Linked DNA regions of Homo sapiens. The protein of the gene in region 1 interacts with the protein of each later gene in a biochemical or structural test. Each region holds a gene or a part of one and is shown in the gene's direction. Other genes may lie near its edges.

Region 1 (3,730 bases):
AACACATCTGCACTTGCTTGAACCCAAAGTTAAAAACACTGGCGTCGGTGCCCTCTCCCCGTCATCCGACTCACGGGCCTGTTCTTTCCATGCTGATGTTCGTCCTCGCTGCTCCCTGCAGGCCGCATGCGGGTGCTGAAGGTGCAGAATTCCTCTCCCCCGGGGAGGCGGCCGTGGACTCCTATCCCAACTGGCTCAAGTTCCACATTGGTATCAACCGGTACGAGCTGTACTCCAGACACAACCCGGCCATCGAGGCCCTGCTGCACGACCTCAGCTCCCAGAGGATCACCAGCGTGGGTAGGTGTCCTTGGGTGCACTCAGGGCCGTCTGTGTGCCGGCTGTGTGGCATCAGGGCTGCTGGGGCAGGCTATGTGTTAGAGAGGTCTGGGAGGCCGTTGCTCATTACGGCAGCGTCACCTCCTGCAGCAATCTGCACGGGCAGCGAGGAGGGACAGAGGGCTCGCGTCTCGTGTGCTCTCACACTGGATGTGCTCCTGATCTGCCGCACGATGAGCGGGGAGACGCCTGGACAGCCGGTCCACTGCGCTCTGCGTCCTCACCTGGGTGGTCCCGGGGGTGCCAACTGGATGACAGAGTCCTTCCCTCCTGGGGTAGAGGAATAGAGGGGTATCTCTGGCGGCGGTGACCCCTCCACCGGAAGCGTGTGCATGGAACTCTCCTGCTTTTCTACACACGACCCTGGCTGGGTGGGGAGACAGCCATGAGCCTGCTTCTTGTGGTTTTGAAGCCGTCCTTCGTCAGACCTCAGCAAGGCGCTGTGCAGTTTCATACTGAGGAGACATAGGCAGGGCTCAGGACGGAGGCCTGGGCCTCCCAGATGGAGGAGTTTGAAGGCAACATCTCCAGGTACTTTGGGATCTGCTGAATTGGACAAAAAAGGGCATCCAGTTGCTGATTTCAGGAAAATATGCCACTGCAGCTTCTGAGCGTGGAGGTTTGGTGCCATTGTTCTCAGCTTGTAGGCGATTGTTTGTGAAGGTCCCATTTGTCACCAGTGCTTGGAGAGGTAGTGAGGGCGGGGCTGAGGCCCTTTAGTGGGAGCAGCTGCTCCCCGGGGATTGCAGGGAGTGGGCCTGGGTGCACACAGCTGTGGGCAGGTGCAGAGGCCATGACAGCCTGAAGGCAGGGCTTTCTTTGCGCTGTGTGATGAGGCCAGCAGTCCCAGGCATTAGCTTCATGTGTGTCTCAGAAGCAACCTTGGTGCTGAAAGGGTCCCAGCAGCCTGGGGTTCTGTCCAGTTGCTGACACAGGACTTAGGTGTCCCCTTTCAGGCCAGCAGGTAGGTTCTCCTGAGCTCTTCGGGGCTGTTTCTGGCTCTCTCTGCCGGGTGCTGAGTTGTTTGCTGGGCACTCACCTGGTCATGGGGAGACAGAACTTGCAGCTCTCTCCCCACCCCTTGATCAGCTCACCTCATAACAGAGATCAGCTGGACAAGCTGGGAGTCCTCTTCCCTCCATGCTGCCTGGGAGTAACCTGAACCCCTGCCCCCCTCCAGGCCCCCCTCCGTGAAAGCGCTGCCTTTCTCCTGCCCCTGCAGCGGTCTGAGGGCTTTCAGCTGTGCTGGGGAACAGTCCTGCAGACAGCCACAGCCAGAACGTCCCTTCTGCCCCTGAGAGTGAGCATGGCCATTAAGGAAATATCCGATGCATTGATCAACATGTTTGTCCATTCAGCAGATTTTACTGGCACCTCCTGCATGTCAGACCCCCTTTCTGGGTGGTGGGGAGTTGAGGATGAGTTCAGCCTCAACGAGATCTGCTGCCTCTGTGGACCTGACAGCCCCAGGAAGAGACACACACGCACAGTGCCCGATCCTGAGGAGGAACGAGCACTTCAGAGCCGTGCACGCCAGCCAGGCCGTGTGGAGAGGAGGGGGCTCCACTGGGAGGGGCTGAGGACCTTCCACAGGGTCTGTCGGGCAGCTTACCTTCCAGGTGGGTCCGTCTTGGCAGGGAGAGGAATGAGAGAGCCGTGCACACCAGCCAGGGCGTTCGGGAGGAGCAGCACGCAAGTTAGAAAGTCCCCAGTGCCGCTGTCCGTATGAGCTTCTCTCCAGCTCATTTTCCCCATCTGTCCAGTGGGATCTCGCTGCGTGGGACCAATGCAAGGATAGGATGAGATGTGCATGTGAGCAAGCTTGTTAAATATTAACTAGTACTTTGTGCGTGGCCTTCCACAACAGTCCCCTCGTGTGCACAGGCAGGGTCTGAGCAGAGGGAGGGCTTTGTGGATTCCAAAGGCCACCAGGCCCTTGGCAGGCAACTGCAGCTCGCCACCTCCCTCACCGACCGGTCAGCTTTCCAACACCAACACTGAAGAGGTGTGGGAGTTCTGTGCCAGGAGCTCCCAGAGCAGCTTCAGGGAGAGTGTGGGGCCCCCTGGGACCTGGGGCATCTTTGCCCACCTTAGGAGTGCTTTGTCCATCTGGACAAGCTAGGCTTGGCTCACTGCCACCCCTCTTTGGTCCAGCTGTCCCGGGGCAGTGGTGCCCAGGCTGCCTGACATTGCAGGGGTGTGGACAGAGCCCTTGCCAGGGAATCCCTACCCCAGGATTCTGGTGTGGCCTCCGCCTGGGTGTGTCCTGGTTAATTCCTGTGCCTACTGAAGGCCTGCCCCAGCTGATCTCGCTCGCTCGCCTCCTAGACCATGCTGGCCACATTGGTTCTCATCCAGTCTTCTGGGGTGGGGACCCGTCCAAGGACAGGCTGGCTGCTCAGTCATTCTGCAGGGCCAAGCAGGGCCTGCAAGGACGATGGGCAGACACAGCCGCATCACCCAGGCAGGACAGCAGGCTCTGGCCCAGGAGATCTGGGGGTGAATCCTGGCTCTGCCAGCCATTAGCCAGAGTGGAAGTGGGCAAATGGATTAACGCCTCCAGCACCTGGTTTCTCACCGAGAACACAGAGAAGGTTATAATCTGGACCTGGTATAATCTGGACTCTGACTTACAAATCTGAATGCCAAGCAAAACCCATTCACTAGCGAAAACTGACTCAGGCTGAACGTATTTAGGGGCAAAACCTAAATTGTCGAGGCTAGTTAAAAGTCCTGATTTTTCTCTGTTACATTGAATAGTCACATGTTCCTCTGAGGAACAGGAGTGGGTTTAATTATGGGGTTCTGCCCTAGACCCGTGTGGGCATGCCATGATCCACACCATGCACCACGTGTGCCTTTGTCATCGAAATACCTGCAGTTCCCAAATACATCTGGCCTCACAGGGTTGTTGGGGCTTAAATGTGCAAATACGAGTAAAGAGGTGAGAGCGGAGCCTGACAGCGCACCTGCTGGGCAGGGTCTCCAACACTGCAGCATTTTGGGGGAAGCTCTCCTACTGGGTGGGGTCTTTGTACAGCAGCAGCATTTCAAGGTGGGCTGATCCTTCTCATCTGGGGAAGCCAGGGCTGGGCAGGTGCCTGAGCCTCATGAGGGTCTCAGTCTAGATGCTGGGCCCTATTCTCCCTGCTGCCTTGGGCTTGGAGATGCTCACAGGTGAGTTCTCATTTGTGAAGAGGTCTGTCTTCCTGAGGAAGCAGGGGACCCTCACCTGTGAACCAAGTGTGCCATGGGAGCTGCTCCATGTCCAGGTCCAGGTCTCCTGGTCTGCAGGGAACGGCACAAGAGGGCTGGCCTAGGCCAGGAGGATGTGATCTGTCCTAGAAGGGGGCTGACCTGCTTGCTGACCCCGCTTGCTGCTGCCTGGCTG
Region 2 (3,667 bases), on another chromosome or scaffold:
GACTTCTTAAGATTAAGGCTAACCTGTTTTTACTTTGCAGATTTTTTACTACTCAACCAGCATTTTTCAGACGGCTGGTATCAGCAAACCTGTTTATGCAACCATTGGAGTTGGCGCTGTAAACATGGTTTTCACTGCTGTCTCTGTAAGTCAATGCCCTAGATAAATACTCTGCTTGTTCCTTAGTCCAGAAATTGCAGGAGGGGTGGGGAACTTCGGCTCTAAAAGCAATCAATGACTTATTGTACACATGCTCTAAGTGTGTAAACCCAAGTGAGTCATGAGAAGAGTCCTGTTTGAATAAGCCAACCACTGCATTGAGATTAGGCATAACTGAGGTGAATCGCTGATTCTCTGCACTGCTGGGATGCCATTTAGTCACTCATTTGTGAATTTTTAACTCACTTGGGGACACAGAGAACTTCCTCCTTGTGCAGATTCCTAGGTTCCTTCTTTTCTCTGTACATAAACCCCTTGGGAGTAGCTGACAGCTTGTCATTTCTATTGATATTGGATGGTCTACTTAGATTCCTCTTTTTACATAGTTCAAATTCTTTTTTTTACCATGTGCCTTGGGGGAAACATATAAAAATAAATAAACAAGGCCCTCTCTAACAGACATTTAAGCCTTTAAGCAAAGTTAAACAGACTCAGCAAATGGTATTAAGCCATTGAGCAGAGCTTCCAAGTAGTTCACAAGGTTGTGGCTTCCGGTGATGCATGAGAGTATGTGTGAGATTATGAGGGAAGTGACATAGTAACTAGAAATGTTATTGTTTTCTTCCAACAAAAAAAAAAGTCATATACTCTTCTTAAAACCAAATAACTTTATATAAGAAGTGATGGTTCTTATATATTAAGGATATATAAGAAGTGATGGTTCTTATATATTAAGGATATATAAGAAGTGATGGTTCTTATATATTAAGGATATATAAGAACCTGACAACAAGAATATCTAACATAATAATCTAAGAAGTAAACAAACAACAATAAAGACAAAAACTCCCCAACTAATGTAATTCACTGTAGAATGAGAGTCATTGAGCTTATTTTTATCTTTGTTCAACAAGATAAAAACAGCAAAAAGTTTATTCTTTTCAATTTTAGTCACAATACTATACTCAATATAATTTAGTCACTTGTTTTTTATTCTCTGCACATGAACTCTTAACTATTACCTTAGGGTGATCAATAAATTACAGCCTGGCTACCCAGATCAAAAGGCAGGTTTGTCCAGACCACATTAAACAGTGCTGGACCTTGGAAAGAGCAGGAAAAACAGATAATAACGAAACACCAATGGTTCTGTAGACATACCTTTAGAGATAAGGCCTGTTTAAACCAAAAGGCCACTCTAAATCAATCAAGACCTGTTTCTGAAGTGCAATCCAAGGGACTATTCACCCTTTTGTCTCCTGGAATATTTTTTACAAATTCTTCAACATATTTTTTATGATAGATTATTATTAAAACATTTTGTGTATAATAGGATTTTCTATGTAAAGCATCAAATTGTCAAGATTGGGTAGCCTAAATTCTGAAAAAATCTAAAGAGGAAACTTCTGTAAAGTTTCATTTTTGCACCCTGCTCCCAACCCCACTGATGTGGGAGGAGTTGTTTAAGACAGTGTCCTAATTATTTTGAATGTACCTTTTTAGAGTCCATCCTTTGATTCTGTTTAAGTTTTTGAACAGGGAAGTGACATAATCTTTTAAAACCAGTCCAAATCATTAATTAAGCCTCCAGGACTACAGATCACATTTAAAATTTTTAATTATATTAATTTTTGAAACATTGTTTTAAAGTTCAAAAAGTATAAAAAGGATAGTCCCTCCGTCACCCAGTTTCTCTCCCCAAAATTAACCAATGTTACCAAATTGTGTGTGTACTTTCAAATAAAAATATGCAAATAGAAATATGCACTGAATATATTAATGTTTCACCAAATTGGAAGAACATCAGTTTGTTTTTGGGAAGAGAGACTTTCCCAACTCCACACTAATTGTGTTCCACATCCTATATTTTCTTCCACACTAATGGGCTGGTAGAAGAGGGCCTGTAATCTTGAGAGAAAAAAAGCAGAAAGAAAATGGAGGGATCTAGGAAGCAGGATGACACTGAGAAAGAAGCGGTGACTACCAAATTGGAACTAAGAGCCCAGGATTTGCGTGAGGCCCTGGGGCAAAGATGAGCGTTCTAATTGGGAAGACATCTCCAGCCACTGACCATGTCTCACTCCTTGTCACACTCATCCTGAGTGTACACCAGGCCTCAGGGACAGAGGCCAACTCAATTTTCAAGATGTTCAGTTTTAGAGTTTATAGTAAGGGAGCTTATTCACAAAGAAATGCTTCTATTTTCTTGGTAGCTTGACGTGGTGGCACCAAGCCAGTTTTGAACATCATAATAAAAGAGTTAAAATATAGAGAGAAATTTAATGAACTTGAGAAAAGTCTGTTTTTTCCAACTTCCTTCTCAATAATTAAATATGTGCTCTTAGCTTATCATCTTATCTGAAGTGATTTAAAACTCTGATATGAGTGTGCCTCTGAGAAACAGGCTTTCACTGTAGGTGAAATGTTTCTAAGATGTCTTCAGAGCCAGAGCTCACTATACTAAAGACATTGGATTGCTATTGATTTACTGATAGGCTGATGAGCCAGCCAACTTGCTCACCAGGTGCCAAAGTGAGAAATTATGACAGGAAGTTTTGTGGGGGGTGAGGGGGAGAGTGACTCACCAGCCTTGGTAATATTCCAAGGATCAGGCAAGAGTATAACAAACTCTGGTCTTGGCTAATTGTAAAACTTAACCATTAATGCAAAGGTCCACAAAACTAAAGGAATCAATGACGTATCTCCTCAGTTAAGATAAGAAAGCATTTTAACCCTTTGCTTTAAAGTGCTAACTTTTAAAACGAATAGTTCACTCCCAGCACAAGATACAATTAAGCATACCAGAAAAATGCAGGCCTATTTTGGTTCAATTATCAAATTCCACATGTTGCTAGGTGAGTGGTCATAATAGGACTTTATTAAGCAGTGAGAAAATTGGATGAGAATAGTTGACACCTGAACAGTTGTACTGTTTCCGGTGTCAATAGTGCACAGACCCTTGTAATTATAACTTAGGATAACTATTAGAAAATAAGTTAATGTCATGTTTAAATGTGGAACCTTCAAATTTTAAATGTACAGGACATCTATTGGAAGAGACCCCAGCTGTACAGTCTGTGAATATTGTACCCAAAGTGATAATCCTGGAGTAGTGGTAACATTATGGTTCTATCTCTATAATGGTCTATTCAAACCAATGTGACTAAATTAAGCAGATATTTGATCATTACCCGCTGTCCACTGAAACTAGCTCTGCCACCTGGGGCTAGAGTCACTCCCCACCTTGATCTCACTCCTGTAAAATGGAAGGATGGAATTGCCTCTTATCTGTTATATAAATTAAAATGACCTCTTTGGCAGTAAAAATGATTTAAGTAAACAGTCAATATTTTGTGACTCACAAAACTGAGATAATTTCTTTAAAATTGTCCTAGGTATTCCTTGTGGAGAAGGCAGGGCGACGTTCTCTCTTTCTAATTGGAATGAGTGGGATGTTTGTTTGTGCCATCTTCATGTCAGTGGGACTTGTGCTGCTGGTAAGTTTGGT
Region 3 (3,600 bases), on another chromosome or scaffold:
ACGGGGTTTCACATGTTGGCCAGGCTGGTCTCAAACTCCTAACCTCAGGTGATCCACCTGTCTCTGCCTCCCAAAGTGCTGGGATTACAGGTGTGAGCCACTGCACTCAGCTAGTTTTACATTTTTAAAAATAGATATCATTTTCCTTATTTTTAGGAAGTTGAGTGGCTTATGTATTTAGTCCCTTATCTTGATTCAGTCTATCTAGGTCATTTTACAAAATCCTGATTCAGTCTAACCACGTCATTTAAACAAATATTTAGCTCCTCTTTGCCAAATGATTTGGACCCCTGAAATAACGATATAAGAATTTCAGGCCAGGTGCGGTGGCTCATGCCTGTAATCCCAGCACTTTGGAAGGCCGAGGTGGGTGGATCACATGAGGTCAAGAGTTCGAGACCAGCCTGGCCAACATGGTGAAACCCCATCTCTACTAAAAAAAAAAATACAAAAATTAATCTGGCATGGTGGCAGGCGCCTTTAAGCCCACCTACTCGGGAAGCTGAGGCAGGAGAATCCCTTGAACCTGGGAGGCGGAGGTTTCAGTGTGCTGAGATCACGACATTGCACTCTAGCCTGGGCAACAGAGCAAAAACTCCCGTCTCAAAAAAAAAAAAAAAATTTAAAAAATAGTTCTAAAATTACCTAGTCTAGGATAGGCACTGAGTTAGGACCTTCATATCTGTTATTCCTTTTATTTTCAGAAAAATTTGAAAGGTATCACCCTAGTTTTACAGAAGAGTGAACTTTGGTCAGAAACATTAAGTAACTTACTCAAGGTCCCTCATAAACAGCAGGGTTGCGCTTGGAATCCTGATCTGTCTCTAACTTCTCATTTGCAGATAAAGAAACTGAGGCCAAAGTACACAACTAATTTGCCAGCGTAACAGGTAATTAGGAGCCACACAGCTCCCTTTCACATTTTCTTTCTATTATTTCATGGTTAGAAGTTACATAATTTCCACTGATATTAATACGTAACCATTTTTTTGTTGTTGTCGTTTTGTTAGTATTGTGTGTGAGATCGAGGTGGGTGGGCAGATGAGTTAAATATTATTAATCCAATTTAAAATAGATTCCAGATATACACAGCCTTTAGCTGACGAGAATATCATCCCTATAATCTGATAAAGCTCAAGTGACATCATCCTGGCTAGTATAAACTTTAACATTTTTAATGCGAATAGTCTATGAAAACCACAGATTTCTTAATCAAGCTCATTTTTGTGTTTCCAACTCTGCCTTTTCAGCCTGCAAACAAAATGCTCTTCCCCCACACCCACTGCTGTTTTCTACTTTTCTTATGATTAAAAAAAATATTTCCCTTGGTAACCATTTTCCCTGGTTACTTTCTTGGCTGATTTTCTGCACAAAGAACTGAAAGGCATTTATCCCCAAGGGAGGCAGTTATTTTAGATTTTACTAAGAAGTTCAGCAAATACTTTTCAACATTCCCTTCTGTCCTTTCTTTGTTTTTAAAGAAAGCTCTGATTTTGTTTCATTTTCAGCTGGAGACTTAAATGACACCAAGCAAAGCCTACTTAGTTTAGATCTCCAGGTAAAAAAGTTTTAAATTTTAAGTTTCTACTTAGCATGTGGAATGGTTTTAATATTTGGGTATTTTATTTCACAACTGTTTAACTCTTGAGTAAATTAGCTCGTTACTAATAGATTTTTAAAGTTCAAAGTATGCATTATTCTGTTTGTTTTTTTCACGATGTACTTCCCAAGTATTTCAGACCTTGTATACTTAGTATTAAATTATTTTTATATGTTTAGGTGGAATTATGTGTTCAATAGAAGTATAAATTGGTTTGAAAATATTATTAATTTTTAAGTCCTAAAAGAACATAAATAATTCAAAATATTTTTCATTTTAAATCTGTTGAATGAAGTGAAAATAGATAATAGACATCTCATGACTTCATGTAGAATTTTAAAATTCTAAATTAATATTTTTAAAGTTTACTTAAGATAACTGGTAAGAAATTTTAAATGAAGAAAAATAAGTTAATCAAGGTTTATAAATAATATTTAATGTTGGGATAAACACAGTAAGTGCTAGAAGGAAAAAAATTACTTGATAAAAATGATACTATGATTGGAATCCCAGAAAATTTACCTCTAGGAGGCAAACACTCAATTACGAAGTTGTTTATGAAAGCAAATATTAAGTGCAAAGCAAAATTCTGTATATCAATGAAAATAATGAGGGCCTAAGCATTAATAGTAAAATTAGTATTGAGAGACCATTTCCTAAAATGTATTTAAACACTGTAGTGAGACTGTTTAGATACTGATTTTGTCAAAATTCAAATAGCTCTGTAAGTTTATTTCTGTGCCTATCTATTTAGATTTCTGGGTAAGTAAAAGTGAGTCAATTTGGGGGAAAAAAAGAAAGAGAGGTAGTTTCCAGAATGAGGATACTGGGAGAGAGGGGTGTGCTCAGAATGGCCACAGCTGGCACATTCACACTCCTAAGCACTCAATCAGGCAATGCCCCATAAGTGAGTGCTTTCAGGATGCCTCAGGACAGCAGGATGCCTGAGACCCTCATGAGAGTTTAACTCTAGAGCCTCGAGGTCTAGGCCCTGACTCCTCACAACAGGATGGAAGGTCTGCACATACAATTGTTAATGCAAGAAAATTTCAATGTATACATTTCATGCATTGCAGAGCACTTATGATATCCATCAGAGCACACTTGCCATGCCACTCAGCAAATTCTAGTTTCACTTTGTCTCTCAGTTCAGGTTTTCATATTGCTTTCCCCTGCTGTTGTTGTTATTCCCTTCCAACATACTACTTTGCTCTCTGAATTGACTTTTATGATTTCAGGTGCCAATCAGCTAATGGATTTGGTCCTTCTTTACATGCTGCATGTTAATTTTTCTAAAACTAAAGTAGATTGCAAAAAGTTGTTCAAAAAGTTGTTCCAGTAACCTATGAAATATAGGTCATTTCAATAACCTATAGTAATGGTTTTCAAATGACTGTGGCAATTAATGTATATATACGCTGAAGAAAGGTTTGTATGCTGGCATGAAGATACTTTAGAGACTGCCGTTTGTTGAACAAAGGTGATGTGGCAAGTCAGACTATGAACTAACTAAGTGAAACCTGACTAGAGGAAGATGATTCTGGCAGATGAAGTTATAAAAAGAAGTACTGAGATTCAAGAGGGGAAACTGAGCTGACCTTGTGCCCTCTTCCCCTCTCACCAACTCCCTTGAAATAATACAAGATATATTACAGACAAATAAATGCACGAATATACAGCTACACTAGGAAATAAAAAGGGGAGCTCCTGGTGGGACAGACACTCTGAGGAGTCCTTCACAGACAAAGAGAAGACAGAAATGAATTTAAAGAGGAAAAATGTACCCTTGAACAGTCATGGGAGAAAACAGAGTGAAGAGAGCTTGTATAGGAAAAAAAGAAGTTTTTAGTTTAAAAGATCCCAAGAAGGATACATTAAACAGCAAAAACAACCTATACCAAGGTACATTCCATTCTTTTACCAAGGTAAAACTTCCAAATATCAAAGATATGTTGAAAATTTGAAAAAAATTTCTATAGAAAGAAAAAAAATTTCTTACA

The links.
Region 2: of the proteins of FAM20C (region 1) and SLC2A2, one has a biochemical effect on the other in vitro, tested with the Homo sapiens proteins (one large-scale study listed by IntAct).
Region 3: of the proteins of FAM20C (region 1) and ECM2, one has a biochemical effect on the other in vitro, tested with the Homo sapiens proteins (one large-scale study listed by IntAct).

The regions. Positions count from the first base shown.
Region 1 is NC_000007.14:195,433-199,162, forward strand, and holds part of FAM20C (extracellular serine/threonine protein kinase FAM20C precursor), read left to right. Parts: intron 1-121; coding exon 122-300; intron 301-1,700; coding exon of another isoform or gene 1,701-2,068; exon of another isoform or gene 2,069-3,730. UniProt on the Homo sapiens protein: Golgi serine/threonine protein kinase that phosphorylates secretory pathway proteins within Ser-x-Glu/pSer motifs and plays a key role in biomineralization of bones and teeth.
Region 2 is NC_000003.12:170,999,054-171,002,720, reverse strand, and holds part of SLC2A2 (solute carrier family 2, facilitated glucose transporter member 2), read left to right. Parts: intron 1-40; coding exon 41-145; intron 146-3,554; coding exon 3,555-3,656; intron 3,657-3,667.
Region 3 is NC_000009.12:92,533,891-92,537,490, reverse strand, and holds the start of ECM2 (extracellular matrix protein 2 isoform 1 precursor), read left to right. Parts: upstream 1-1,500; 5' UTR 1,501-1,558; intron 1,559-3,600. UniProt on the Homo sapiens protein: Promotes matrix assembly and cell adhesiveness.